Linked DNA regions of Homo sapiens. The gene in region 4 interacts genetically with the main gene of each other region. Each region holds a gene or a part of one and is shown on either strand. Other genes may lie near its edges.

Region 1 (3,500 bases), on a different chromosome or scaffold from region 4:
GAACAGAATCTCTCTTCCTGTTATTGAGGTTATCTCCCTTTTATTCTTGAAAGTCTCATTCGAAATACACCTATCAGAGTTCACTCAGGATATTTTCTACTACTCTCCTTTTCATAATGCTGCTGTTTCTTCTTACATTCTCCTTGAAACTCTCTCCTCTTTTGCTTCCATAATATTTTACTGTCCTCATCCTTTTTCTGATTATCTTGAATCCTCTTTTTATTTTGCTAACTGGTCTATCCTTCTAAACATGGCCATTCTCCAAAGCTTGTTGCCCTGAATGCTCTCTCTCTATAGACTCTCCCTCACTTATTCTCTCAGTATCAGACATTATCTCTGAGCTGACAGGTATCAAATAGCTTGCCTGAGTTCTGTTGTCTCACCAAAGATCTGGTTACTCAATTTCAATATTTACTCCAAATTTTTTTTTTTTTTTGAGACTGAGTCTTACTCTATCGCCCAGGCTGAGTGCAGTGGTGTGATCTCGACTCACTGCAACCCGTGCCTCCTGGGTTCAAATGATTCTCGTGCCTCAGCCTCCCGAGTAGCTGAGATTACAGGTGTGCACCACCACACCCAGCTAATTTTTGTATTGTTAGTACAGACGGGGTTTTACCATGTTGGTCAGGCTGGTCTCGAACTGTCTCCCGAAGTGCTGGGATTATAGGCGTGAGCCACTGTGCCCAGCCTATTTACTGACTATTTCTAAGTGGATGCTCACTATAACCTCAAACTTAATGATTCAAAAACCATTCATCATTATTCTTTCCAAATGGTTTCTGCCTTCCAACTTCTATTCCATTCAATGGCATGAATGAGTATCACAGTCTTCTCAGCTAGAAAGATTAGACTCCCTGTGGCTCATCTCCTTTGTGTCAGAATAGAATAATGGGATATAGTGCAGCTCTGGATCAAACAGACTAAAATGTAATCCCAGGATTGCCATTACTTATTGTGTGGTCTTGGATTAGTTACTTACTCTCTGAGCCTAGATCCTCATCTGTAAAATGAGATTAGTAATATCTATTTCACAAGGGTGTGAAGTTGTGCACACAAGACATACTGGATAAACAACAGCCCCTCTCACATCTAGTTACTTAGCAAATTATGCCTATTCATCCTTTGCAGGTCTCTGACAGATAATTCTACTCCCCATTCTAACTCTTAGTCATATCTGGATTACTCTAATAACCTCTTTGCAGTCTGCACTAAATCTAGCCTTTCCATCCATCCATCCATCCATCCATCACTATTGTCAAAATAATCTCCTTAAAATATATATCTTATCAAATCATATTCTTATTAATGCAATTTTCAACAGCTTCCTATTGCCCATCAATCAAAGCTGTTCAAAATCTATCCACTCAAACCTACTTCAGCGATTACTTCCCTGACAAGCTATGGGTAAACTGGCCTCCCCACCACTCCCTTCCCCACACACCAAGACCTCTCCCACCAGCATGCTGCTGCTCAGGTTGTTTCTTCTCTCTGCTCTCATGGATAATCCCCTTTCCTGACCACTGGTTGTATCTGAAATCTGTACCAGGTACAACTTCCTTATGCTGTAGGCTGGTTCTTATTTCCCTTTACTGCTCAACTTACATGAATCCTCTCTCCCCACTTTGATAGTTTGTGGTTTATTACTGATGACTCCTCTGTCTACTACAATGTATCACTGTGTAACCAAGCAGAGGAAAACTTTCAGATGGATTAAAAGAATGAGACAAATGAGAGAATTATTATCATGTTTTCAATCAATATACTTGAGTATTTAAAGGTAAAGAACTGCACTGTTTGTCTATGTTGTATCATTTTTTTTTTTTGAGACAGTCTCACTTTGTTGCCCAGGCTGGAGTGTACTGGTGTGATCTTGGCTCACTGCAACCTCCCCATCCCGGGTTCAAGCGATTCTCCTGCCTCAGCCTCTCGAGTATTTGGGACTACAGGCACGTGCCACCATGCCCAGTTAATTTTTGTATTTTTAGTACAGTCAGGGTTTTGCCATGTTGGCCAGGCTGGTCTCAAACTCCTGACCTCAGGTGATCCACCCATCTTGGCCTCCCAGAGTGCTGGGATTACAGGCGTGAACCATAGTGCCCAGCCATTATAAATTTTTATCAGCCAAAAGAGAAGTTTCTTGAAAATAAAGACAAATGATTAACTTTTTCCGCATTCTCATAAAAATCAAACACATTAGCCACTTAGTCTAATTAGTAATACTTATATTATTTTATAAAGTTATTTAAAGTAAAAACCTTAATATACCTTTGCTTTCAATAATAGAGAAAAATGATTTTGAGGCAAGATACGTATCTAAGTTCCTCAGGGGAATTTTCTCTAATTCACATATTTCTCCCTAAGCAAATGCTTCCCTCCTTTCTACTGTCTTCTCCTAGCTAACAACTCTGCTATAATAGTAAGCCACTGTGATTGATGAGCCTATGCCACAGTGTTTAGTAGATATACACCAAAAGTTTCAAAAAAAAATGGGACAATATGGTTCTAATCAAGATCAGAGGTAAAATAATTTTCAGTATCTCCTACAGGCAAATTCCTCAATATGCCTACCATAATCTGCTGGTGTATAATTCAGAAGTTCAAATTGCCAGTGTTTATAGCACGAATAATTCTGGTACATGTCAAATATTTCTCGGGTAAATTGTTGGCAGATGTCACCTAAAACAAAATACGAAAAATATTTAGTCAGGACAAATTTCGGAAAGCCACCCTTAAGACTAAGTCCTTTAGGAAATAAAGAATAACTATTTCCAAATTTAAATACATTTAATGGACTTTTAAAGTTAGTGTTATCAAATAAGGTAAAATTCAAGGACTTTTTAGATCATTTAAATAATAAAGTAAGTTTACTGACCTCCAGTAGTCCTTCCAGCTGTCACCTCTAAAATAACATCATTTTTGTCATATTTCTCCTTTGGCACAAGGCTCTGGAAAAGCTGGAATAAAAATCAGCATTTGTGTGTATATTTTCCCCGGTACACTATTACTGAATTAAATAAAGGCCCGAAAAACATTGAAAAAAATCAATAATTGGCAAAATCATATAGTATCCCAAACAGGGTATTCCAAAAATGCTATAATAAGTAGAACTAATTAGACCTAAAATAGGTGATCAATTCATGTTAACAATGGAGTTACTTGTCAGTATATTTTCTGCACTGTTATCAGATTATCTTAATTTTCTAGAATGCAGAAGTTCAGATCAAAGTCCAGGGTGTTCCATTCAATTTTCTTCAGATTTTGGCGCTTATAATTAGTTCTGAACAGTAGCTTCTTTCATCTAATGAATGAAGCAAGGCTTTGAAAGTCTTCACTTTGAGAAATGATTTCATATTATCTTCTGCTATAACTGACAGCAGACACCAGCCATGCTGTGCCTTCTCAGCAGAGACGCTCTAATTAAAGACTATGTTGAGGGCTCCCAAGATAAGGCTCAAAATGAGTTTCTCAGCTGTGACCAGAAAGAAAAAGGGCTTCCTAAT
Region 2 (3,500 bases), on a different chromosome or scaffold from region 4:
TGAAGCTGCCTCTGTGCACATTACACCCATGAACTTAGACCAGTTGCCTTTATGTATGATCGTATTTATACTGAGAAGTTACTGTGTTTTTTGACTTTCTTTTCTATTTGCTACATATTAGTTCGGTCTAAACGTTTGGTCTTCTGGTCTCCATAGTTCTACATTGGTTAAATGCAACTCACTTCTGGGAGTAGTGGTGACATTCAACTAGTAGGCTTTTTAATAAACTACAGAAGTTCATTACTCTCATGTAAGGAAGGAAAACTAATGTAACTTTCGTTAAGTATGAAAAGCGTTGGATATCCTTATAGTTCTTTAGAGTTAAGGGTGAGATGGGTTTAGAAAGTGGCCAGGCACAAGTTATTTTAAAATAAAAAATCTTTGGCTGTTTGTTCCAATATATTAATAGTTTTCCCTTTTTTACAGCAACGCAGTGTGCATATTTTATCTGGTTCTCCGAGCTCTGGACACACTGGAAGATGACATGACCATCAGTGTGGAAAAGAAGGTCCCGCTGTTACACAACTTTCACTCTTTCCTTTACCAACCAGACTGGCGGTTCATGGAGAGCAAGGAGAAGGATCGCCAGGTGCTGGAGGACTTCCCAACGGTGAGTGGGGTTACGCATCTTGTCTACGGACTGTTGTGTTCATAATTGCTAACGTGGTTGTCCGGTAGCCTCCATACATGTGGAGAAAGGTTAAATAAGCATTCTGAGGGCAGCATAATGTGAGGGTTAAAAACTCCGGTAGCCAAGACTCTGAAGCCAGGCTGCCTGGGTTGGAATCTCAAATCTCCCACTTACTAAACTGTTGGTTACTTACAAAGACTCTCTGTGCCTCAGTTTCTTCATCTGTAAAATAGGGGTAATAATAACACCTACCTCATGGTATTCTGAGGATTCAAAGAATTAACGTAGGTAATGCTCTTAGAATGTTAGCTACTGCTGTTATTATCAGTATTGGAAGTCCAGTGTTTCTTCCTGTGGGAAGACGCAGTCAAATTTTAGTGTTGTGAAAGATTCTCAGGCTAGCTCACAAAAGCCTGCCGACTGTATGATGCAGCCTACCTGTAACACTGCTGGCCTCTTGACTACCCGGAGCCTGGTAGCATGGGACTGCTGCTCACGATGGGCAGCAGCCTGGCATGGGGGCGGTGTCTGTTGGCAGCTAGGGCGAGCCTCTGCCACTTCACCTGTGATCCTGGGCAAGTTCCTTATCTGCTTTGTGTCTCCGTCTCCTCGTTTGTAAAGTTAGAGCTGAGAGGATTAATTTCGCACATATAAAGTACTTAGTGCCTGGTACAGGGTAAGTATTCTGTAAGTATTAGCTATTTGGTCTATTTTGTTGGAGTAAAGTGGGTTATAGTTAAAATCCTAAGATTTTTAAAGTCCCTCAAGTTCATGTGGACATCTGCCTAGGTCCTACTATCCTAGAATTCGCATGTCTTATCACACAAATAACTGATTCTTCCATATCTTATAAATAAAGGTTTGATTTAGCAAAGTCACATGTTGTGTAATAGCTCGAAGAAGCCCTTTTTGTCCACAGTTGCCAGAGCTTTTGGAGAACAGTCCTTATGTTATTGAAACAAACCTAATCTGTAGCTGAGTTGGGAGGGAGCTAAGTGGACAGAGAGTCCTCCACCCAAACAAAAGAATCTTTGATTCTTGGGCATAATGGGAGCAATATTTAAAAAAAAAAAAAAAAAAAAAAAAAGGAATGTTTGGGGAAGACTCTTGCGGTGCAAAGGCTGTTTCAGATTGCTGAGATCAGACCTTAAGTACCAAAGCCCAAATATAGTACAACATAATACAAATGAGAAGAAAATAGCTGAAGAATAATTCGAGTTTATACAGTACAATTCAAGAGAAGAAAGAAAATTTATGACGACTAGCTGGGTGAGAATTAGAACTGTAACCCTGGGAAGGTCCTGGTGATTTGACTCTCACAGGACACCTGATGACCAGAGGATGGGTTTCCTTTGATGGGAAATCTGTGGCGATTCATTGATGGGCCTCTGAATTCTGCTGAAGCAGAGGAAGTAGTAATACCCCATTTATAATGGAAGTGCATTCTCACTTAAAAACAACTAATATTATTCTAGCTGGACCTAGCCTCTAGAAACAGCCAAATTACATTTGACTTGAGTGGATTCATAATAATTAAAAAATTTCTGGGGCATGGGATAAATGTGTTAGGTATTGCTAAGTCAAGGCAGCCCTATCCCCTCAGCAGAAGTGAGGGAATATGAAAGTGTGTGAATGCTAACATAATTTTGGGGAATATCGCCGTCAGATTTCCAGATGATATTCCAACATGTTTGTGAAACTTCAGTGTCTTCCTGTGTTCATACAGTGTTCCAGTGGAAAAATAATGCTTAGTTCTGGAAGGTTTCAGATGTGAACACTGAACTCATCGTTTTCTTTTTTGGGTAGTAGAGTTAGAGATTCCATCCTCTTGAAAGCACAGTTGCCCCGGGAAGAGTAAAAGGGAGCAGAAGGCGTAAGCCAGGCACGGCTGTTTTCACTGTTGTTCACCTTTTGTATCCTTACGAATATGAAGATGTACTAAGTTGTGTGTTTTGCGTGCATATATAATTTTAAGCTACTTGAGTTGTAGGTCCCTCCAGTCTGTGATTCAGTTTGAGATGGGACTGTATGGGAATTAACAGTGCCTTGTCTTCTTAAGGAGTGATTTGTGTATGTGCTGATATAGCTCAGTATGTCTTTGAAACCAGTTGTCTGGGGCTAGGCCTGCAATCAGCTTTTGGCTAAGAGGTCCCAGGATGGAACAAGTAGTGTGAAAGAGGACTGATACCTTGGCCTCACACACAGTACTGCTCTTAGACTGGGGCAAGTGAAACTCCTCACTTCAGAGTGCCCCATTCTAGGCCCCCTCACTCCCAAAGGGGTGAGGGATCACTGGGGCCATGGGAATGTGCTTGTTCAGCTCTCGTGGGCTCTCCTTCTGTACCACGTTCTGGACATCTGGAGTTCCTTGCCCCAAATCCCTGAGCCCACGTCTGCGTCCGCACAGTCTATTTCCTAAGGTCAGTCCATCTCCTCCAGGTGGGAACGTGCCACCATTGACTGTGCCCTTGGGCCTGAGTGATGGCCAAGGGCTGTGTTGGGGAGTGTTGTGGATGGATCCTGGCACCGAGGGCTGGGATATCCTCTCAAATGAATGTGAGGTGCCTCCCAGTGCTGGAGAGAGCGGGATTCAGGAAGCAGTGGAAGGGAAGAGCCTGGGATATGGGGATCAGCTGTCTGTGCCCTGCTGCATTCTGGAATAAAACTCTGAGGGACTAAGAATTCTAAATTCAAACCTGAATCAACCAGGTTGTTACAAAGATAAGTTTGTCAGTGCAGGAGGATACAATATATTTTACTTAAGTTACTAGCTCGATTGATCATTTTTAAATTTTTAGCTACATATAGTATGTGGGCCTCCATTTGTCCTCTTATCCCAGGCCTTGCAGAATTTAGGAATAAGCCTCAA
Region 3 (4,083 bases), on a different chromosome or scaffold from region 4:
GAAGGCTTCTCTTCATTCAAACTTGGGAGGGTAACAATGAAATTAACATTCCCACCTGCTGACGCTGCCTGCACCCTGGCTTTCATTCGAGCCTCACAACACCTTGCCAGCTGCCATCATCATCCGACAGACAAGCAAGTGGGGACCACTATGGCTGGGTGACTGTCAGGCCCCTGCACATGTGCTTGAGCGGGAAATCAAGCCCTGGCGGCAGCCATGGGAGTCTGAGCTCTGGGACTGCACGGTCCCCAATGCCTGTGCCTGCCAGCGGGAAAGCTGGGCCCTGATGAGCCAGGCTGATAATATAAACCACTGGCAATAACACAGCCAGGGTGCCTGCCACCCAGATCATGCTGGCAATAGACCTGGCGGGAGATCATTGTACTCGCCGGGGGACCTGGAAGGGCAGGAAGCCAGTTTAGACCCTGGAGCCCGCAGAGGGAAGCTGGACGGGTCTCACCCACTCCCCAGGGATAAGAAAGTTTAAATCTCCCCTCCCGCCTTTCCTTCTGGATACACGAGTGCTGTGGTGGGGGCTGGGGGCGGGGGACTACATCAAAGGACGGGTTGGGGTCATTGTCTCCCAATAGAGGCTGCGAGGGGATTGGGGCGACTGCCTGCACCCTCTCCAAGGCATGCCTCTCAGGAGCGCCCTCCTGGCACGCGGTCCGAGCACAGACGCGGTCACCACCGGGCTTTTGCTCCAGCCCAGGGGTGCTGTGGTGCAGGCTGCGAGCCTCCCGCCTTCCCAGTGCGCAGGCTGGGCGGCATCGGCGGTGCCTGACCGGGGACCAGCGAAGCACGAGTCTCGACGCAGGACAGGGGCGGCTGCGGGCGCGCGCCCTCCCCTCCCCGTGAGCAGCCTACACCAAGAAGTTTGGATGCTGTGCGACTCCGAGGGGGAGCCTGGCTTTGGAGAGAACCGGAGTGTCTTAGTGAGACGAATTCCGCGCACTCGGACCCCCTGGTGACAGCTGGTGCCCACCGTGCGGCTCCGGAGGCGCATGTCCCCAGGACGCCCTCTCAGGGCTGCGGCTTTCCTGGAGGAAGCCGCGGTTTGCTGAGGCCGCCGCCGCCACCTTCAAGCGGCGGAACCGCTTCCTGCGCCCGGGGCCGGAGCCGAGCGCCGCGCGGAGCACCCGAGGACAGCTGTGGTCTTGACTGCCCTCCCACGCTCCCCACGCGGTCCTCCCGGGCCCTGAGCTCCGCTATCCTGCTCCTCAAAGGGCTCGGCGCGGGCCTCAGGTCCCTGTGACCAGAGGAGCCCAACCGTGTAGTCCGGCAGACTCCCGCGGTGAGCGCAGCCCGGGCCGCGGGTCCTGCGTGCGGGGGCCGGAGTGTGTGTGTCTGCACCCCCAGGCCCGGGCGGACACCGTTCCGCGCTCGTGATCCGCACGTCCCGACGGCGAGGGCCTCCACCCTCCTGTCGCTGTGCGGCCAGGGCGGAGGCGGGGGAGGTGCAGATTCCAGCGCGGGGAATAACTGTCGGTGGCGGCCGCGGCCAGGGAACCGAGCTCCGCAGGGCAAGAGTCCTCCGCGCAGAGGCAGCAGCGGGGGCGGCCACCTGGGCAGCCGCGAGCGGGGAGGGCGGAGGGGACGGCGGGGCGTCCAGGGGTCGGCAGGAGGAGGAGAAGTCGTCAAAATAATAAAGAGGATGATAAATGCCTTGTCCGGCTCCTTTTCTCCGACACATTCAAAGGGCTTAAACTTGTCAGAGCTGCCCAAAGCAGCAGAGCCTGGAGCCCCGGGGTCGCCTAGCTCGCGTCCCCTCAGACCAGCGGGCCGGACCGGGGACGGACTCTGACAGCCGCCGGCGCCCTCTTCGGACGTGAACGCCCATGCCCCCGAGTTCTGCTCGAACCCCAGCGCGCGCTCTTCTCCCGGACGTGTAGGTTGAGGAGGGCACCCTGGCATTCCCCTTCTGGCAGCGGGAGGCAGACGGTCTTTTCCCGGACACCCCGGGCGCACCATGCCTTCTCCCGGGCCAGACCCCTCCCCGGCGCCGCCTCCCCCGCGGGGCCCCGCAGCGCGCCTTCTCCCGGGCCCGACCCCTCCCGGCGCCGCTTCCCCCGGGGCCCCGCAGCGTCCGGCACTCACTGTAGGCGCTGTTCTCCAGGCTGCCGTTGACGCGGCCGCTCGGGTGCAGCTGGAGGTGGTACTTCGTGGCGCAGTAGAGCTTGCGGCGCCGGGGCGCCCCGCCAAGGTGCTCGTAGACGCCGCCACGGCCGCCCGCATCGCGCCGCAACCGCGCCCCAGGGCCCGCTGCGGGCCAGCCGGGCTCCAGCAGGCTGAGCAGTAGCAGCCAGATTAGGCCCATCGTGGCATCGCGCCCGCCCCGCGGCGGCGGCGGCTGCAGGCGAGCGCGGCGCCCATGGAAGGGGCGGCAGCCGGACAGCTGCGAGGTGCTCGGAGCGGGATCCCGCGCCTGGAGATGCTGACTCCGGCTTCGCGGGAAAGGTGGGGGAAGAAGGGGGAAGGGTGGGCGAGAGAGAGAAAGAGAGGGAGAGTGGGAGAGGGAGAGGGAGAGAGGGAACGCGAGTCCCTTTAATTTCCACCCAGGAGCAATGAAATTTCCGTTGCTGCGCAAAGCGCTGAAAGAAAGGACGGTTCGCCAACAAAAGGCCGACGTGGTCCCCAGGCGGAGGCGCGGGAGGGGCGGGAGGCCGGCGGGTGGGGAGCCCCGCGGGGCTCGGGGTTCGGGCCGGGCGCCGTCTGCATACACTCGCCGCCAGCGCACCGCCGTCGAGCCGCGGCTCCGCTCCGCAGCGCGCCCCACGCCCCCGAAAGCCCTCCTGGCTCTGAAAGGTCCCCTACCCGCCCCTCCCCCGCCCCCTCCCCCAGACCAATTATGCCTCCGAAAATTATAGACCGAGGCCTTGAGGAGGCCGCCCCAGGCCCTGTCACCCCCTCCCGCTCCCCATCAATCCCCCTGCACAATGGGGCCGCCGCCGATGACTGATGTCCGTGAAAACAACTTGCGGGGAAGTCGAGCTGACAAACGCCCATTAAAGGCGGCGCATAATGAAGGGGACCGCGGAGGGCGGCGGCAGGGAGGCTCCGGGGCGCGGGCACGCGTGGGGAGCTCCGGGTTTGTGTCTGCGCCCGGCGCTTCCTGCAGGAGCAGTGGCGCTGTCCTCAGCCTTGCAAGGCGCGGGGCAGGCCGGGTCTGGAGATGCTATCTCCTTTTGCGCACACCAACTGGGCACCCGGAGTGGTGGGGTTAGCTCTCGTCTGGCAGGCCTCGGAGGATCCCGTCCCAGTGACGGTCCAGAGAGGGGCCTGGGGAGGCGGGAGGAGGGACGCGAGAGCCAGAGAAGTGGGCGCCGACAGAGAGCCCTAGAGAGAAAGAGATGCAGATAGAGACAGACAGAAACGGAGGAGGAAAGGACGGGAAAGACATGGAAAATGTGAATGACAGAGATCGCCAAAAAGAGGAGGCAGGGGAGATGGAAAGAAGACAGAGCCGCGGAGAACACCCAGAGAAAAGCACAGGGAGTCTGGTAGCCACAGCGGGTGGGTGATGACAAGAGGAACCCGGTAGAAGCTGGGAATGGGTGTGGGGGAGTCCTGGCCTGGAGGATCTGAATCAGTGCAGATGCCCAGGTGGTCCCCTGGACTGTGTGGGGGTCAAGGTGTATCTCAGGGGGCCCAGTGAAGAGGGGCTTCAAAAAGTATCGGGAAAAGCCATGTCCCCACCCATTTCTCTTGCTTCCTGGTCCTCTGTCCCCCAGGGTCCTGGGGCCAGCAGGAAGCAGGGGCCAGCACAGGGGATTTGCTTCTCTCAACCCTGCCCCAGAGGAGGGCACGCTGTGGAGTCCAGGGGTCTAGGCCACAGCTTTGGCTCCAAGTTGACCAGGGGCTCTGGGGTGAGTTGGGTGGGCTGACATTCCCCAGCCTGCCATCTGCATCAGGGTTTGGGGTCAGGCAAGTGTGCAGGGCACCATGAGCTGTGGCAGTGAGCACACACCCCTGGGACGTGTCCAGCTCCCATGGCCCAATACACACAGGGCAGTGTGTCCTCTGTGAGCCCACTCCAGCGTGCACAGGGTCCAGGTGGCCATCCTGAAGGAGGGCGCCCCCAAG
Region 4 (3,500 bases):
ATCTCTGAAGACTAACACCTCCAGGAATAAAGGGGGAGGGAGGAGGGTGGGGGAGAAGGCAGCTCTTACTGGTACTTGAAGGGCAGCCGTCTGGATAGGGGTGGTGAGGGCGGTGAGGGCCGGGTTCTGGACCGCAGCCATAACAGGGCTGCCATCTGTCTTCAGTGTGGTCAAAACAAGGGAATCTGTCTTGATGATCTGAGGCTGGACCAGGACCTGGATGAAGAAGGAAGAAAAGTAAAAGGATGATAGCATTATCCTTCTGTTATGCATTCCTTTCTTACTGCATAGACCTTCCAAGAAAGAATGAGAAATGATATAATTTTTATGAAATTGAGAATAAAAAAATGAACAGGAAATTTCATAGAGGCCATTTCAAAAGCCGGCTATTTTGTACAGCCTGAATACCGGGTTCAGGTGGAGAAAGAGGGGCTAGCTAATGAGGGTCCTGGCTTTTTTTTTTTTTTTTTTTTTTTGCTGAGACAGGGTTGCTCTCTGTTGCCCAGGCTGGAGTGCAGTGGTGCAATCTCAGCTCACTGCAGCCTTGACCTCCCGGGCTCAAGTGATCCTGCTGCCTCAGCCTCCTGAGTAGCTGGGACTACAGGTGTGTGCCACCATGCCTGGCTAATTGTTTGTATTTTTTTGTAGAGACAGGGTTTCACCATGTTGCCCAGGCTGGTCCTGAACTTTTGGGTTCAAGAAATCCACCTGCCTCAGCCTCCCAAAGTGCTGAGATTACAGGCGTGAGCCATGGTGCTCAGCCAGGTCATGGGTTTTTAGGTTGAAAGACTTTCAAGAGGGTGGTGCCAGTGGCCCAGCAGGAGCAGAGCAGAGATGGGTAGGGTGGATGGCAGAGAGGAGAGAAAAGACTCAGGAAAGCCAGACACATGGCTGAGAAGCAAAAATAATAAACCTGATTTTTTTAAGATAAATTGTTAGTAAGAAAATATAGGCCAGATGTGGTGGCTCATGCTTGTAATCCCAGCACTTTGGGAGACCAAGGCAGGTGGATCATGAGGTCAGGAGTTTGAGACCAGCCTAACCAACATGGTGAAACCCTGTCTCTACTAAAAATACAAAAATTAGCTGGGCGTGATGGCGCGTGCCTGGAATCCCAGCTACTCGGGAGGCCGAGGCAGGAGAATTGCTTGAACCCAGGAGGCTGAGGTTGCACAGTGAGCCGAGATCGTGCCACTGCACTCCAGCCTGGGCGACAGAGCAAGACTCTCAAAAAAAAAAAAAGAAAAAAGAGGATATAGTCCACGATGATATATAACATAAAGACGTTTTTTGTGATTATAAAAATAATACACGTCCCCCAGCTGGGCACAGTGGCTCCCACCTGTAGTCTCAGCACTTTGGGAGGCCGAGATCGATGCACTGTTTGAGGCCAGGAGTTCAAAACCAGCCTGGCCAACCTGGAGAAACCCCATCTCTACTAAAAATACAAAAAACTAGCCAGGTGCAGTGGCAGGTGCTTGTAATCCCAGCTACTTGGGAGGCTGAGGCAGGAGAATCGCTTGAACCTGGTAGGCGGGGGTTGCAGGGAGCCAAGATCACGCCACTGCACTCCAACCTGGGCAACAAGAGCAAAACTGTCTCCAAAAAAAAAAAATTAAAAAAAAGATTAATAATACATGCCCCCCCTCCCCCCAACCCAATATATGTTCAGGATCCACAGCAGAAAATATGGAGAACAGAAAACTATGAAAGCCAAGGGCAGTGGCTCACGTCTGTAATCCCAGCACTTTGGGAGGCCGAGGCGGGTGGATCACAAGGTCAGAAGTTCAAGCCAGCCTGGCCAACATCCCGTCTCTACTAAAAATATAAAAATTAGCCGGGTGTGGTGGCACATGCCTGTAGTCCCAGCTACTCGGGAGGCTGAAGCAGCAGAACTGCTTGAACCCGGGAGGCGGAGGTTATAGTGAGCTGAGACCACACCACTCCACTCCAGCTTGGGCAACAGAATGAGACTCCGTCTCAAAACAACAACAACAACAAAAAAACACAACACAAAACTATGAAAAAGAAAATTATCTGGGAAATACCAATTTAGCACATTTCTTTCCAGTTTTATGCCCATTACATGTGTACGTAAGTGACTGCACCAGCCTTTCCTGAGTGCCAGTGTCTATCTACAGATATGGACTCAGCCAGGTCACTATACGCTGCTCACAGGTGCATCCTGGCGCCCTACAAGCTGCTTTGTGTACACTCTGGTTGGTCCTTCTTAGTATGTAGACCACATCTTCAACCAAGGACCAGTTAACAGCCCCAACCAGTGCCTCCCTGAATCCTTTCCAGCCACTTACCGGGACCTGCTGCACCTGTGGCGCAGCAACTGTCTGCACCGTAGCCGGGGCAAGGGTCTGCAGCGTGCCATTGGCCGTTTGTGTCAGCACCCGCTGGGCCTGTACTGTCTGCACCTGCTGCTGAATGGTGACCGGCTGTACCTGGGAGGATGTCACCAGGCTTTGGACTTGAGGCTGAAGGACTTGGGAGAAGAGGAGAAAGAAGGCACAGAGATGAGGAATGCATTCTGTCACTGCAGCTGCAGCAGAAACCTGAGGATGGAGTATCTCATAATGATTCCAACTCCCCACCTACTGCTGAAGATGATGTGCACAGCCATTTACAAGGTGGCTTAGACAACAAGAACATCCCATAAGGGCTGCATCAATTTCTGAGGGAACGAGTACAAATTGTTTTATTACTCTGGGTGCCAGGGTGGGGGAAAGGGAAGCTAATCAGCAAATGACTGCACCCAGCAAGGGAGTTAACAGATGTTGAGAATCAACAACTCCCTGGGGCTTCATTTTCTTCCATCCTTTCTGGACGGCAAGTGCACTTTGGGAGGACTGTCTCAGCTTTTTGCCTTTACATTCCCCCACCTGTCCCAATTCTTGAACTCCATTGAAGAACTATAAGATTCTTTGAAATTCAAAGCAATACTAATCTTACCCTGGGCTCCCCACAGAGTCAGAGGGAAATATGATGAAAAGGCACTGGGATGCAGCACATCACAGAAAGAACAGGCCCCTTTCAGTCATCCATTCCCTCAACACATACTAAGGGCCCAGCATGAGGCTTGCTACTTGAAGCTGCTGCACCTATATTAAAAGTCATATTCATCACCATAGTGGATGCTCAGATGTTTGCTGAATGAATAGTTCTCAACTGTGGCAGCTGAGATCTGGCTGCCGCCTAGCCAATTTCAAGCCTTATTCAAGTCTCCACCACTAGTTATCAGAATGGCCCTGTGTCTACTATGCTTGCTGGATTTTTTTTTTTCTTTTTAAGATGGGAGTCTCGCTCTGTTGCCTAGGCTGGAGTGCAGTGGCACGATCTCTGCTCACTGCAAGCTCTGCCTCCCGGGTTCACGCCATTCTCCTGCCTCAGCCTCCCGAGTAGCTGGGACTACAGGCGCCCGCCACCATGCCCGGCTAATTTTTTCTATTTTTTAGTAGAGATGGGGTTTCACTGAGTTAGCCAGGATGGTC
Region 5 (3,089 bases), on a different chromosome or scaffold from region 4:
AGGGCACCCTCAGACTGATGATTATCCTGCTGCAGGGTCTCTCCCAAGAGACAGGGAAGGCTGTCATGCCAGTGCTGATGAATAAGCATCAGACCAAATGTGACATGTGACACCTATTAAAGAAGGCCCCCGGCCACACGCAGTGGCTCAAACCTGTAATCCCAGCACGTTGGGAGGCCGAGGCAGGCAGATCACTTGAGGTCGGGAGATCGAGACCAGCCTGACCAGCATGGAGAAATCCTGTCTCTACTAAAAATACAAAATTAGCTGCGTGTGGTGGCACATACCTGTAATTTCAGCTACTTGGGAGGCTGAGGCAGAAGAATCGCTTGAACCCGGGAGACAGAGGTTGTAGTGGGCCATGATTGCACCATTGCACTCCAGCCTGGGCAACAAGAGCGAAACTCTCAAAAAATAAAATTAAAAAAATAAAGAAGGCCCTTTACCCAGCGCCACTCACTGAGTGCCACTTGCTTCAGACACAAGAAAGGCAGACACAATTCTGACCCTCCAAACATGTCAGCTCTCACGGCAGCTGGCCCACCTGGCAACAGCCCCAGTCAGTGAAAGAGGGTTCTTTCCTTTTTATTTTTGCAATATCCCATACAAAAGCAATAGAAACGTAACAGTCTTAACAAGAAGTTTACAATTGAATATTTGAACAGAAAATCTGTACACATTATCATTTACAGCAATTTTACATGGTAAATTAACTGATTGTTTTAAAATGTTCTTTCTAAATCGCTCCACTCTGCTGCCCTAACTCTTGGAGTATTCTAAAGAGTCTAACTAGTGCTATTTACAAGTACCAAATTAAGACCATATAACTTACATAAAACTCATTAGTTTAATAGCTCAATTTAACAATGTCTGACTTCAGAATGCTGTTATGACATATTGATAAAAGGCCAAAAATTAAGTTTCCATAAAGATATTAAAGGTGTCTGAGAATACTTTGATGCCTATAAAAGTAGCTGACTCTCAATTGGTCCCATGGATTACATGGTTAAATCCAAAACAGTCCACCTGACAAGCAATAACTGAAGATGCCTGTGGAAAACCAGTTATGTAGACGTGTCAGCTTACCCTGGAGGACAACAGGGATTACGCAATTAAGCTCGCTGGAAGAGAGCTTCAAGTACTTTCTTGGACTTAGCTCCATTTACAATTTAAAACATGCAAAATATACTCACTATACATAAAATTAATGTTTCTTAAGAAAGTAAGGCAAAAATAATTCAGCATGAGCTAATGGACTGCTAACAGAGAAACCACCAGGTACAAGTGCACACACATGCTTGGTGCCTGGCCAGCCTTCCACCTAGTCGGGGAGGAGCTGTTTCTCTTCCTGGCCGCCAGGGGGCAGTTAGCTCATGGCTGAGAAGTCTCTCAAGGGTTCAGTTAAACAAGCTTCCAAATCAAACTCATCCTCCACTTGACTGTCCATGTGTCTCACCTTGGTGGGTGTGCCAGAGTACACATCCTGGAAAACAGAAGCATGGCTCGGTTGACATTCATCTCACCCTGAAAACAGGGGCCCCTTCCTACACCCCACTCCTTATGTGGTAAATCATGTGATGTAATGCACAGCAAGGTGTACACTTCACGTGCAACTGAGACAGATTTTAATAATAACACTGCAAAGAGAAACCACATGTACCATTTACAAGACACTGACGTTTAGATGTGCACACATCCCATTGTGCTGGGATTACAGGAAGGAGTCACTAGTCACTGTGCCTGGCCATGTACATAGTTTATAAGCACAGAAAGAATTGTAAAAGCCTAGACAAAACCACAAATAGTGGCTGTCTCAGGACAGGAGACAGTATTTAAACTGATACATTTAAAAACGGTTTTCTTTTCTCTTGAGACAGAGTCTCACTCTGTCACACAGGGTGGAGGGCAGTGGTACAATTTCGGCTCATTGCCACCTCTGCCTCCCGGGTTCAAGTGATTCTCCTGCCTCAGCCTCCTGAGTAGCTGGGATTACATGCCTGCATGACCACACCCAGCTAGTTTTTGTATTTTTAGTAGAGACTGGGTTTCACTATGTTGGGCAGGCTGGTCTTGAACTCCTGACTTCAGGTGATCTGCCTGCCTCAGCCTCCCAAAGTGCTGGGATCACAGGCGTGAGCCACCACGCGCAGCACATGGTTTTCTTTCTTTTTTTTTTTTTGAGACAGAGTCTTGCTCTGTTGCCCAGGCTGGAGTGCAATGGCGCCATCTCAGCTCACTGCAACCTCCACCTCCTGGGTTCAAGCTATTCTCCCACCTCAGCCTCCTGAGTAGCACGGACTACAGGCACCCACCATCATACCTGGCTATTATTTGTATTTTTGTAGAAACAGGGTTTCACCATGTTGGCCAGGCTAGTCTTGAATTCCTGACTTCAGGTGATCCGCCTGCCTTGGCCTCCCAAGGTGCTGGGATTACAGGCGTGAGCCACCGTGCCCAGTCCAAACTTCAGTTTATAAGGCAGCATGTGTTATTAACAATTCACCTGCAACCCCCAAGCTGAAAGACTTATCCAAAGTACTTACAAAGTCATCCTGAGAGCTGGTCTGGGGCTCGGAGCTGCTTTCTGCAGATTCAAGGTCTACAGGGTGTCTGTTAAACAAGATCCAACATGTGCGTCAGGCACTAACTTAACAAAGCCAGGAGACGGGGCGCTACAGACAAACCCCATCCATATGGTACAGCCACAACACTGACAGTGTGCCCGAGGCTCCCTGAGGGGTCAGCTTTCAGTGACTATTTGACAGACTTAATCCCAGCCCAATCAATCCAGCAAAGAGAAAGCGGATGGCAATGAGAAGCAACAAAAAGATCTGCTGGGCTCACCACACAAGCATCCTTGGAAACAGAAACACTCATAAGCCCAATTTTTGAGGGGGAGAAATGAGCACTGTGATGAACATACTATGCATTATCACTAATTTTTCCAAGTTTCTACTCAGAGAATGGGACAATGGTGTCACACTGGGGGAAAAAACCCAAATGACATCTGTCAGGACAAACTGGTAAAGCCACTTACAATCGTTTCAAACATGCCAGTCTCTAAAAAATTTCCCAGCACAGAGGAGAAA
Region 6 (3,500 bases), on a different chromosome or scaffold from region 4:
ACATGGTAGAGTATACGATGCTATAGCCTACTACACACATGGGCTATATGGTAGAGTACTGCTCCTAGGCTACAAACCTACTCAGCATGTTACTGTACTAAATACTGTAGGTAATTATAACACAATGGTATTCTTATATATAAACATAGGAAAAGAACACTAAAAATACAGTATTATAATCTTATGGGACCACTGTGGTATTTGTGATGTGTCATTGACCAAAAAGTCTTTCAGTTGCTCATGACTGTTCCTCAATTTGTCTGTCCGTTCATCAGTTGATGGATATTTGGTTTGTTTCCACTTTTTGGCCTTAATGATGAATGCTACTATGAACATTAGCTTTCAATTCTCTTGGGTGTATACCTAGGTTGGGGTTTGCTGGTTCATGTGGTAACTCTATGTTTAACTTTTTTGAGCAACTGCTAAGCTGTTTTCCAAAGCAGCTGCACCATCTTACATTCCCACCTGCAATGTGGGAGAGTTCTGACTTTTCCACTTCCTCACCCACATTGTTCTTGGGCATCTTTTTCTGAGTGTGCCCAGCCTGGTGAGTGTGAAGTGGGTTCTGGGACCTTTAACTTCCTGGTTTTTCTCTCACACTGGGTTCCATTTTGGGGGTAGATTACGGACTTGGACATGGTTGGTGGTAGGGTGGTCATCCCTTACTCTAAGGCAATGGCCGGAGGGTGATCTATTTTGTGGTTCAGAAAGAAGCTAATTAGGGAGCTGGATTGCTTTAGTTGACTGCTTTGAGAAACTGGGATTTTTTTTTTTTTTTTTTTTTTTTTTTGAGGCAGAGTCTCGCTCTGTTGCCCAGGCTGGAGTGCAGTGATGTGATTTCGGCTCACTGCAACCTCCACCTCCTGGGTTCAAGCAATTCTTGTGCCTCAGCCTCCCAAGTAGCTGGGATTACAGGTGCACGTCACCATACCTGGCTAATTTTTGTATTATTAGTAGAGACAGTGTTTCACCATGTTAGCCAGGCTGCTCTCAAACTCCTGACCTCAAGTGATCTGCCACCTCAGCCTCCCAAAGTGCTGGGATTACAGGTGTGAGCCACCACTGGGATAATATTTTTGAATAACTGCAGCCCACCCTCCACACCCAGGCTTCCCCAGAGCAGGATCTGTGCTGTCCCTGTGGCAAGGGCAGAGCCCCAGGAGCTAGACTAAATCTGAGAGGAACAGGGGAGTCAAGGCTAGATGGAGGCACACACATGCAGGACAGGAAGGGTCTCCAGCAGGGCTGGAAAGCCACCAAGCAAGGGTAGTGCAAACCCTGTCTTCTCTGCTTCCTGCTGCCCCTCTCTTATTGGGTAGCAGACTGGCTGTGTCTGCTTATCCCGCATGGTGGCACATGGCTGCCCAGAGCTCCCCAAATAACCTGTTACGTTTCCACCCACAGGGAGAATCAGGCAGCCCGCTTGCTTATTGTTTTTAATATACTTTTCCAAACTACACAGACATTCCCAAAGCGGGTCTCCTTCTACCCAAAAGAGAAACGCTGGGCCTTACTAATTAACTGAAGACTCTGCTAGCTCGAGCCTTCCAAAACTCCATGCCACAATTGTTCAAACCATTTTCCAGAATACATCTTTTAAAATAACTTTTAGAAAATTGAACAAAGGGATTCATGTCTCAGCTTTATAGTCAAACCATGATCTTTTCTGAGGGTATAGCCCATTTGGAGTTCCTGCTTAATCCCCTGATTAAAAACTGAATGGGGCTGAGTGCAGTGGCTCATGCCTATATTCCCAGCACTTTGGGAGACAGAGGCAGGAGAATTACTTAAGGTCAGGAGTTTAAGACCATCCTGAGCAACATAACAAGTCCCCATCTCTAAGACAAAAAAAAAAGAACTGAGTGACATCTCACATCTCACATTTCTGAACATTAAACCCAGCCTTGATAGCCAAAGATGCTCGCCACTGAAGGATCCAGGTAGTATTGAGGGTTCTGTGGGGATTATCCAAAGAGAACTTTCTACAAAGTTTTAGGTGATGGCGATGCTAAAAGAAATGCTAAGAATTTCTCTCTTATATTAAAGAGAACTATGGTCCTCTCATAAAATGTACCATTTATCACCAAATTTATCTCATAACCTAAGAGCTACCACTTACAAATTTGAAGGGAAAAATTACTACATTGTAATACTCAAGCCAACACAAAGAATCCTATCCCAGTTTCTTGAGTGGATGGGCAAGAATATGGGGAATTTATTATGCAGTAACCTTCATCTCTCTTCTATAGGTCAGGATTTAAGTTTACCTCAAAAATGGAAGATTTTAACATGGAGAGTGACAGCTTTGAAGATTTCTGGAAAGGTGAAGATCTTAGTAATTACAGTTACAGCTCTACCCTGCCCCCTTTTCTACTAGATGCCGCCCCATGTGAACCAGAATCCCTGGAAATCAACAAGTATTTTGTGGTCATTATCTATGCCCTGGTATTCCTGCTGAGCCTGCTGGGAAACTCCCTCGTGATGCTGGTCATCTTATACAGCAGGGTCGGCCGCTCCGTCACTGATGTCTACCTGCTGAACCTAGCCTTGGCCGACCTACTCTTTGCCCTGACCTTGCCCATCTGGGCCGCCTCCAAGGTGAATGGCTGGATTTTTGGCACATTCCTGTGCAAGGTGGTCTCACTCCTGAAGGAAGTCAACTTCTATAGTGGCATCCTGCTACTGGCCTGCATCAGTGTGGACCGTTACCTGGCCATTGTCCATGCCACACGCACACTGACCCAGAAGCGCTACTTGGTCAAATTCATATGTCTCAGCATCTGGGGTCTGTCCTTGCTCCTGGCCCTGCCTGTCTTACTTTTCCGAAGGACCGTCTACTCATCCAATGTTAGCCCAGCCTGCTATGAGGACATGGGCAACAATACAGCAAACTGGCGGATGCTGTTACGGATCCTGCCCCAGTCCTTTGGCTTCATCGTGCCACTGCTGATCATGCTGTTCTGCTACGGATTCACCCTGCGTACGCTGTTTAAGGCCCACATGGGGCAGAAGCACCGGGCCATGCGGGTCATCTTTGCTGTCGTCCTCATCTTCCTGCTCTGCTGGCTGCCCTACAACCTGGTCCTGCTGGCAGACACCCTCATGAGGACCCAGGTGATCCAGGAGACCTGTGAGCGCCGCAATCACATCGACCGGGCTCTGGATGCCACCGAGATTCTGGGCATCCTTCACAGCTGCCTCAACCCCCTCATCTACGCCTTCATTGGCCAGAAGTTTCGCCATGGACTCCTCAAGATTCTAGCTATACATGGCTTGATCAGCAAGGACTCCCTGCCCAAAGACAGCAGGCCTTCCTTTGTTGGCTCTTCTTCAGGGCACACTTCCACTACTCTCTAAGACCTCCTGCCTAAGTGCAGCCCCGTGGGGTTCCTCCCTTCTCTTCACAGTCACATTCCAAGCCTCATGTCCACTGGTTCTTCTTGGTCTCAGTGTCAATGCAGCCCCCATTGTGGTCACAGGAAGTAGAGGAGGCCACGTTC
Region 7 (4,202 bases), on a different chromosome or scaffold from region 4:
ACTTGCTGTGGACCTGCCAGCCATCCCCCCACCCTCCAAGCAACCTTGACCTATTCCAGACAGTTGGGTGGGAGGCAACACAAACAGCAGCAGCCAGGGGCAGTGGCAGGTAGATTTTATTGGCCTGGGACACACAGGGGATACCCTCACCCACGATGGGGTGGGGGGTGTGGTGTTGAAGATATAATCTGATGGTCACTTGTGGTAGAATCGCGGGTTCTGGCTGTGTTGGATGAAGGGGAGCCGAGGGCCAGGTTGGCTGGTAGCTGCAAAGCCCGACTGGTGGTGGTGATGAAAAGAGGGCTTTGTCACTGGGCATACTCTCCCTTCCACTTAATACCCTACTGATAACCACCCCCAAAGAGGAAGGAAAAACCAGATGATGTGGGCCACCTGTCCTACCTAATCCTGCTTTTCCGGATCCCTAGTGTAGGGATTCTGACAGGTAAATTCTATTACCATTCTTACCTTTCCTGCTGGCTGCATCTGCACAGGGAGCTGGGGGGAAGCAAGGAGTCCAGGGGCTGGATGCAGAGCCTGGGGGTGCATGGGGCGCAGAGAGGACTGCAGAGAACAGAGTCAGGGCCTGAGGCATACTGAAGCTCCCCTTAACATATCCCTAACCCTGACCTCCCAAGGTGCCATACTCACTGAGTCGGAGAAGCCAGTCTGCTGGTTAGCATGTTCCATCTGCTTTTGCAAGGACAGGGCACCACCAGGCTGGAGGAAACCTAGGTGGGGAAGAGGGGCATGTGAGATGAGAATGAAACAGGGAGGGGAGGACCTGAGAGCTAGAGCTCCTGCATGGGATGTTATCACCTGTCTGAGTGGGCTGAAAGTGGCCATGCACAGCATAGGGCTGTGGCTGTGGCTGAGATAGGTACTGCACTGCAGGGAATGCCGAAGGAGCTGAGAAAGGAAAAGACAGAGCCATTAAAATCTTTTACTGAATGGCATTCCTCCTTTGACCTTGAGGAAGGCCAAGCCCCATCCCTCCTATTACTCACCTCTGAGCTGCTGACTAGGACTATAAGCTGGCTGTGTGGGCCCATAGTGAGGTGGGGGCTGAGCAGTCCCATAGGCACCACCAGGACTGCCTTGGAATTGTCCATGCTCTGGTGTCCCTGCAAAAGCAGCTGCTGAGCCCACGTAGTGCCGGGTCTAAGGAAGGAGAATGAGAACTCGCCTACAAACTCCTTGAAAGCTGAAACCCAGTGACTTGTGTGTATCTGTATGCCCCGTTTCCCCCTAAACTTAAGTGCTTGATATGTTTGTGACTTGAATACTGGTGGCAAGGATGCATGGATGGAAGTACTAGGGGCTAGGCATCCAATCCTACTCTCACCGTAAGCACTTGGGGTCCAAACATTTGTTTGGCTCTGTCAGCTGCCATGAGGGTGCCTGGGCGATTGTGTCCTCCAGGGCTCCCTAGAAAGGGAGAAGGGCTTCATGATGCTGAAATGGGAGGCTGTGACCTCCAAGAAGGCCGGTTCCATCTGGTGGTTTCTTTAGTCCTCACCCTGCATGCTGAGGAGATGAGTTCCTGTGTGAACAGTCAGGCTCTGCTGGTATGCAGCTGATGTTAGGGTGGTCAGGTCACTGGAGTGAAAGGAAGACAGGTCAAAGTCAAGGACAGATGCCTTCTCTTTTGCCATTAAACACTGGTTCTTTTACTACCTGATCCCAGTTCCACTTGGCCCCCATTTCAGTTTTTAGCACTCTGATCCCACCTCTGTTCCTTTCGCCTCCGTTTTTCTTCCTCATGTAAAACTTTCTTGAGCTGCAGGAAAAGCTGGTGCTTCTCTTCCTGTAGAGCCAAAAGCTTCTCCTCCAACTTCAGAATCTGGGATGGGGTGGGAAAAGAAGATGAAGGCAGGGAGAGTCAAACGAAGAAATCAAAGCTGGGAAAGTTCAAGGGACTGCTTACTTGTTCCTTGGTCTCCTCTAATGACATTCTCTCTTCCATCTCCTTTTTCTTCCTTCTCTCCTGTTCTTCCTTCATCTTCTGTTCCATCATCTTATCCACCTCTTCTTCCTCTGGAGAATCAGGCAGAATGAAGAAGAGGCAGGGTAGTGAAAACAATTCCAACGTTACAGATTGAAGACCAGCAAAACCCAGTCATCCCAACACGCCTGTATGCTCTTTGCCTCGAGGGGACAAGCTCCCCATCGCGGCAATAGGGAACGGAAAGGCTTTATCAGGTGCTCTCCAAGGTCCTTCCCATCTCAAGGGTTCTGGAGCGTGGAACAGGACGCTTAAATCCCACCACAACGGGGCTATTCCTTCCCTCCTCTGCGCTCGGCAGCGGGCGCGCTGGTTGGCCGGTGGGTTGAGGCCAGCCTTGAGGTACAGGAGCCATTCTGGGCCGTGCGTCCCCCTGCTATGGCCCCGGCTCACCCTGCCGCTTGCGCTCCCGCTCCATCATAATGTGCCGGTGCAGCGCCCTGGCCATGGCGTTGGAAAGCTTGGGGCGCTCCAGGAGTGCGGGCATGGTGCTGCCGTGGGCGCTCGGGCCGTGGGCGCCCGGCTGTCTCTGACTGCCAGACCTCAGACGGGGCCTGCGGGGAGGCGGGCGCTCAGAGGGGGCCGCGCCCGGCCCAGGCGGAAGCCCGTCCGCCCGGCCCGCTCGCCGCCCCGGTCACGTGTCCCAGGAGCCCGCCACCCGGCCGGGACCGCAGCCCCAGTCCCACCGCGCGCGGGCGGCGCCGGGGTCCCCGGCTCGCTGCTGCCGCTCCCTGCCCAGCCAGCGCGGACGACTGCCCTTCCTACCCGCCTTCTCTGCGCTTTCTCAGCGGCTCCGACGCGCCCTGGCCCCTGCGTCACATCCGGCGGCCCGGCCGAGTCCTTCCGGAGTCACGGCGGCGGCCGACCTCACAGGTGAAAGAAGGCGGAAGCGCGCTGCGACGGGTGCCCGCGGCGTACAAACCCCGTCGCCGGGAACGTGAGCGACGACGGCTGCAGACTGGCCTTGGCATCCTCAGCTCTCTTTAATTTCGCGGGCCCACCTGGTGGCACCCCAGGGGACGCGGGCTCCGGAGAGGGGCGCGCGAGAGAGAGGCCGAGGCGGAGGCTCTGAGACGGTGTTTATTGGCTCCTTAGAAATCAGAGTCAGTAACAACTGTACAGAGGCCCCCATCTTCCGTGCGCCCACCCTTCCCCACTCCCGCCCGGTGGCCCCGGAAAAAGCAGCTTCATGTGGGCACAGGGAGAGACTCCTCTGGGATTCACAGTAACCAGAAACAAAAACGGAAATAAATTAAGTGATGTGGGGTAGGGGAGTAAAAGGGAGTCATGTTCCCCAAATCAGTGCATGAAGAGGGGTACCAGGGCCTGGAGCTGGGCTCCCACGACTCCTCCCATCAGACGGAGTGCTGGGCCTCCGGACATGGAGCTGTGCCACTTGCCACCTACATCTGAGAGCCTGCCTACATGCTCCTGCGCGGCTGCCAAGCTCCAGCACCTGCGCATGCCACGAGTCACGGGAATGAGGTGGAGGCAGTCGCCACTCAGAGTCCATGGGCCCGCGGCCCGACTGTGCTTGTAGTAGTGGTGTCTCACCCCTCATTCCACCCGTACCAGCAGGGCACAGAGGAGTGTGGCCCCCTTCTCCTTAGTGACCCACTCAAGTTCGGCTGGACTGAAGTGAGGGTCAGGAGGTTCTCCAAGGGCAGCGGAAGGGGGTCCCGGGGTGTAGGAGCCAGGGCGCACACACACCTGGAACGCCACCTGAGCCTGGTGCGTCCGCTGGGATTTGGGGTCCCGGAATCTGTCAGACAAGAAAAAATAAGGGAGTGAAGCCTCTCGCCCCATCACCTCCCCCTTGCAAAGTCTGTTCCAACCACACAAGCCTTGCTGTACCTAGGAAATACTCCCACCTTATGGGAACTTCGCTCTAGCTGTTCTACCTGAAATGCTCTTCCTCCCAAAGCCTGCTCAGCTACACCCTTCACTTCCTTCTTCAAGCCTTTGCTCGAATCTCTCCCACCTTCTTAGGATGTCCACACCAACCGCACTGCTGTCTCCGCCCCATTCTTTCTCTGTTTCCATAGTCCTTACTTATTACCTTTAAAAATACTAAATACTGGCGGGGCGCGGTGGCTCACGCCTGTCCCAGCCCTTTGGGAGGCCGAGGTGGGCGGATCACGAGGTCAGGAGATCGAGACCATCCTGGCCAACATGGCGAAACCCCGTCTCTACTAAA

Evidence for each region.
Region 1: changes in SREBF2 (region 4) and MTRF1 together harm fitness more than expected from each alone (negative genetic interaction), as found in Homo sapiens cells (one large-scale study listed by BioGRID).
Region 2: changes in SREBF2 (region 4) and FDFT1 together harm fitness less than expected from each alone (positive genetic interaction), as found in Homo sapiens cells (one large-scale study listed by BioGRID).
Region 3: changes in SREBF2 (region 4) and FGF3 together harm fitness more than expected from each alone (negative genetic interaction), as found in Homo sapiens cells (one large-scale study listed by BioGRID).
Region 5: changes in SREBF2 (region 4) and SLBP together harm fitness more than expected from each alone (negative genetic interaction), as found in Homo sapiens cells (one large-scale study listed by BioGRID).
Region 6: changes in SREBF2 (region 4) and CXCR2 together harm fitness less than expected from each alone (positive genetic interaction), as found in Homo sapiens cells (one large-scale study listed by BioGRID).
Region 7: changes in SREBF2 (region 4) and GPS2 together harm fitness more than expected from each alone (negative genetic interaction), as found in Homo sapiens cells (one large-scale study listed by BioGRID).

Annotation. Positions count from the first base shown.
Region 1 is NC_000013.11:41,250,077-41,253,576, forward strand, and holds part of MTRF1 (peptide chain release factor 1, mitochondrial), read right to left. Parts: intron 2,955-3,500; coding exon 2,873-2,954; intron 2,677-2,872; coding exon 2,569-2,676; intron 1-2,568. UniProt on the Homo sapiens protein: Mitochondrial peptide chain release factor that directs the termination of translation in response to the peptide chain non-canonical stop codons AGG and AGA.
Region 2 is NC_000008.11:11,809,241-11,812,740, forward strand, and holds part of FDFT1 (squalene synthase), read left to right. Parts: exon of another isoform or gene 1-250; intron 251-426; coding exon 427-610; intron 611-3,500. UniProt on the Homo sapiens protein: Catalyzes the condensation of 2 farnesyl pyrophosphate (FPP) moieties to form squalene. Proceeds in two distinct steps.
Region 3 is NC_000011.10:69,816,617-69,820,699, forward strand, and holds the start of FGF3 (fibroblast growth factor 3 precursor), read right to left. Parts: upstream 2,801-4,083; 5' UTR 2,318-2,800; coding exon 2,098-2,317; exon of another isoform or gene 2,092-2,097; intron 1-2,091. UniProt on the Homo sapiens protein: Plays an important role in the regulation of embryonic development, cell proliferation, and cell differentiation. Required for normal ear development.
Region 4 is NC_000022.11:41,867,605-41,871,104, reverse strand, and holds part of SREBF2 (sterol regulatory element-binding protein 2), read right to left. Parts: intron 2,495-3,500; coding exon 2,313-2,494; intron 217-2,312; coding exon 70-216; intron 1-69.
Region 5 is NC_000004.12:1,692,231-1,695,319, forward strand, and holds the end of SLBP (histone RNA hairpin-binding protein), read right to left. Parts: intron 2,611-3,089; coding exon 2,544-2,610; intron 1,484-2,543; coding exon 1,367-1,483; 3' UTR 501-1,366; downstream 1-500. UniProt on the Homo sapiens protein: RNA-binding protein involved in the histone pre-mRNA processing.
Region 6 is NC_000002.12:218,132,528-218,136,027, forward strand, and holds part of CXCR2 (C-X-C chemokine receptor type 2), read left to right. Parts: intron 1-2,249; 5' UTR 2,250-2,274; coding exon 2,275-3,357; 3' UTR 3,358-3,500. UniProt on the Homo sapiens protein: Receptor for interleukin-8 which is a powerful neutrophil chemotactic factor. Binding of IL-8 to the receptor causes activation of neutrophils. This response is mediated via a G-protein that activates a phosphatidylinositol-calcium second messenger system.
Region 7 is NC_000017.11:7,312,561-7,316,762, forward strand, and holds GPS2 (G protein pathway suppressor 2), read right to left. Parts: upstream 2,801-4,202; 5' UTR 2,771-2,800; intron 2,560-2,770; 5' UTR 2,493-2,559; coding exon 2,399-2,492; intron 2,038-2,398; coding exon 1,928-2,037; intron 1,844-1,927; coding exon 1,731-1,843; intron 1,600-1,730; coding exon 1,520-1,599; intron 1,429-1,519; coding exon 1,346-1,428; intron 1,162-1,345; coding exon 1,008-1,161; intron 910-1,007; coding exon 820-909; intron 732-819; coding exon 652-731; intron 565-651; coding exon 469-564; intron 280-468; coding exon 196-279; 3' UTR 101-195; downstream 1-100. Other genes in the region: NEURL4 (neuralized-like protein 4), read right to left, coding at 3,563-3,767. UniProt on the Homo sapiens protein: Key regulator of inflammation, lipid metabolism and mitochondrion homeostasis that acts by inhibiting the activity of the ubiquitin-conjugating enzyme UBE2N/Ubc13, thereby inhibiting 'Lys-63'-linked ubiquitination.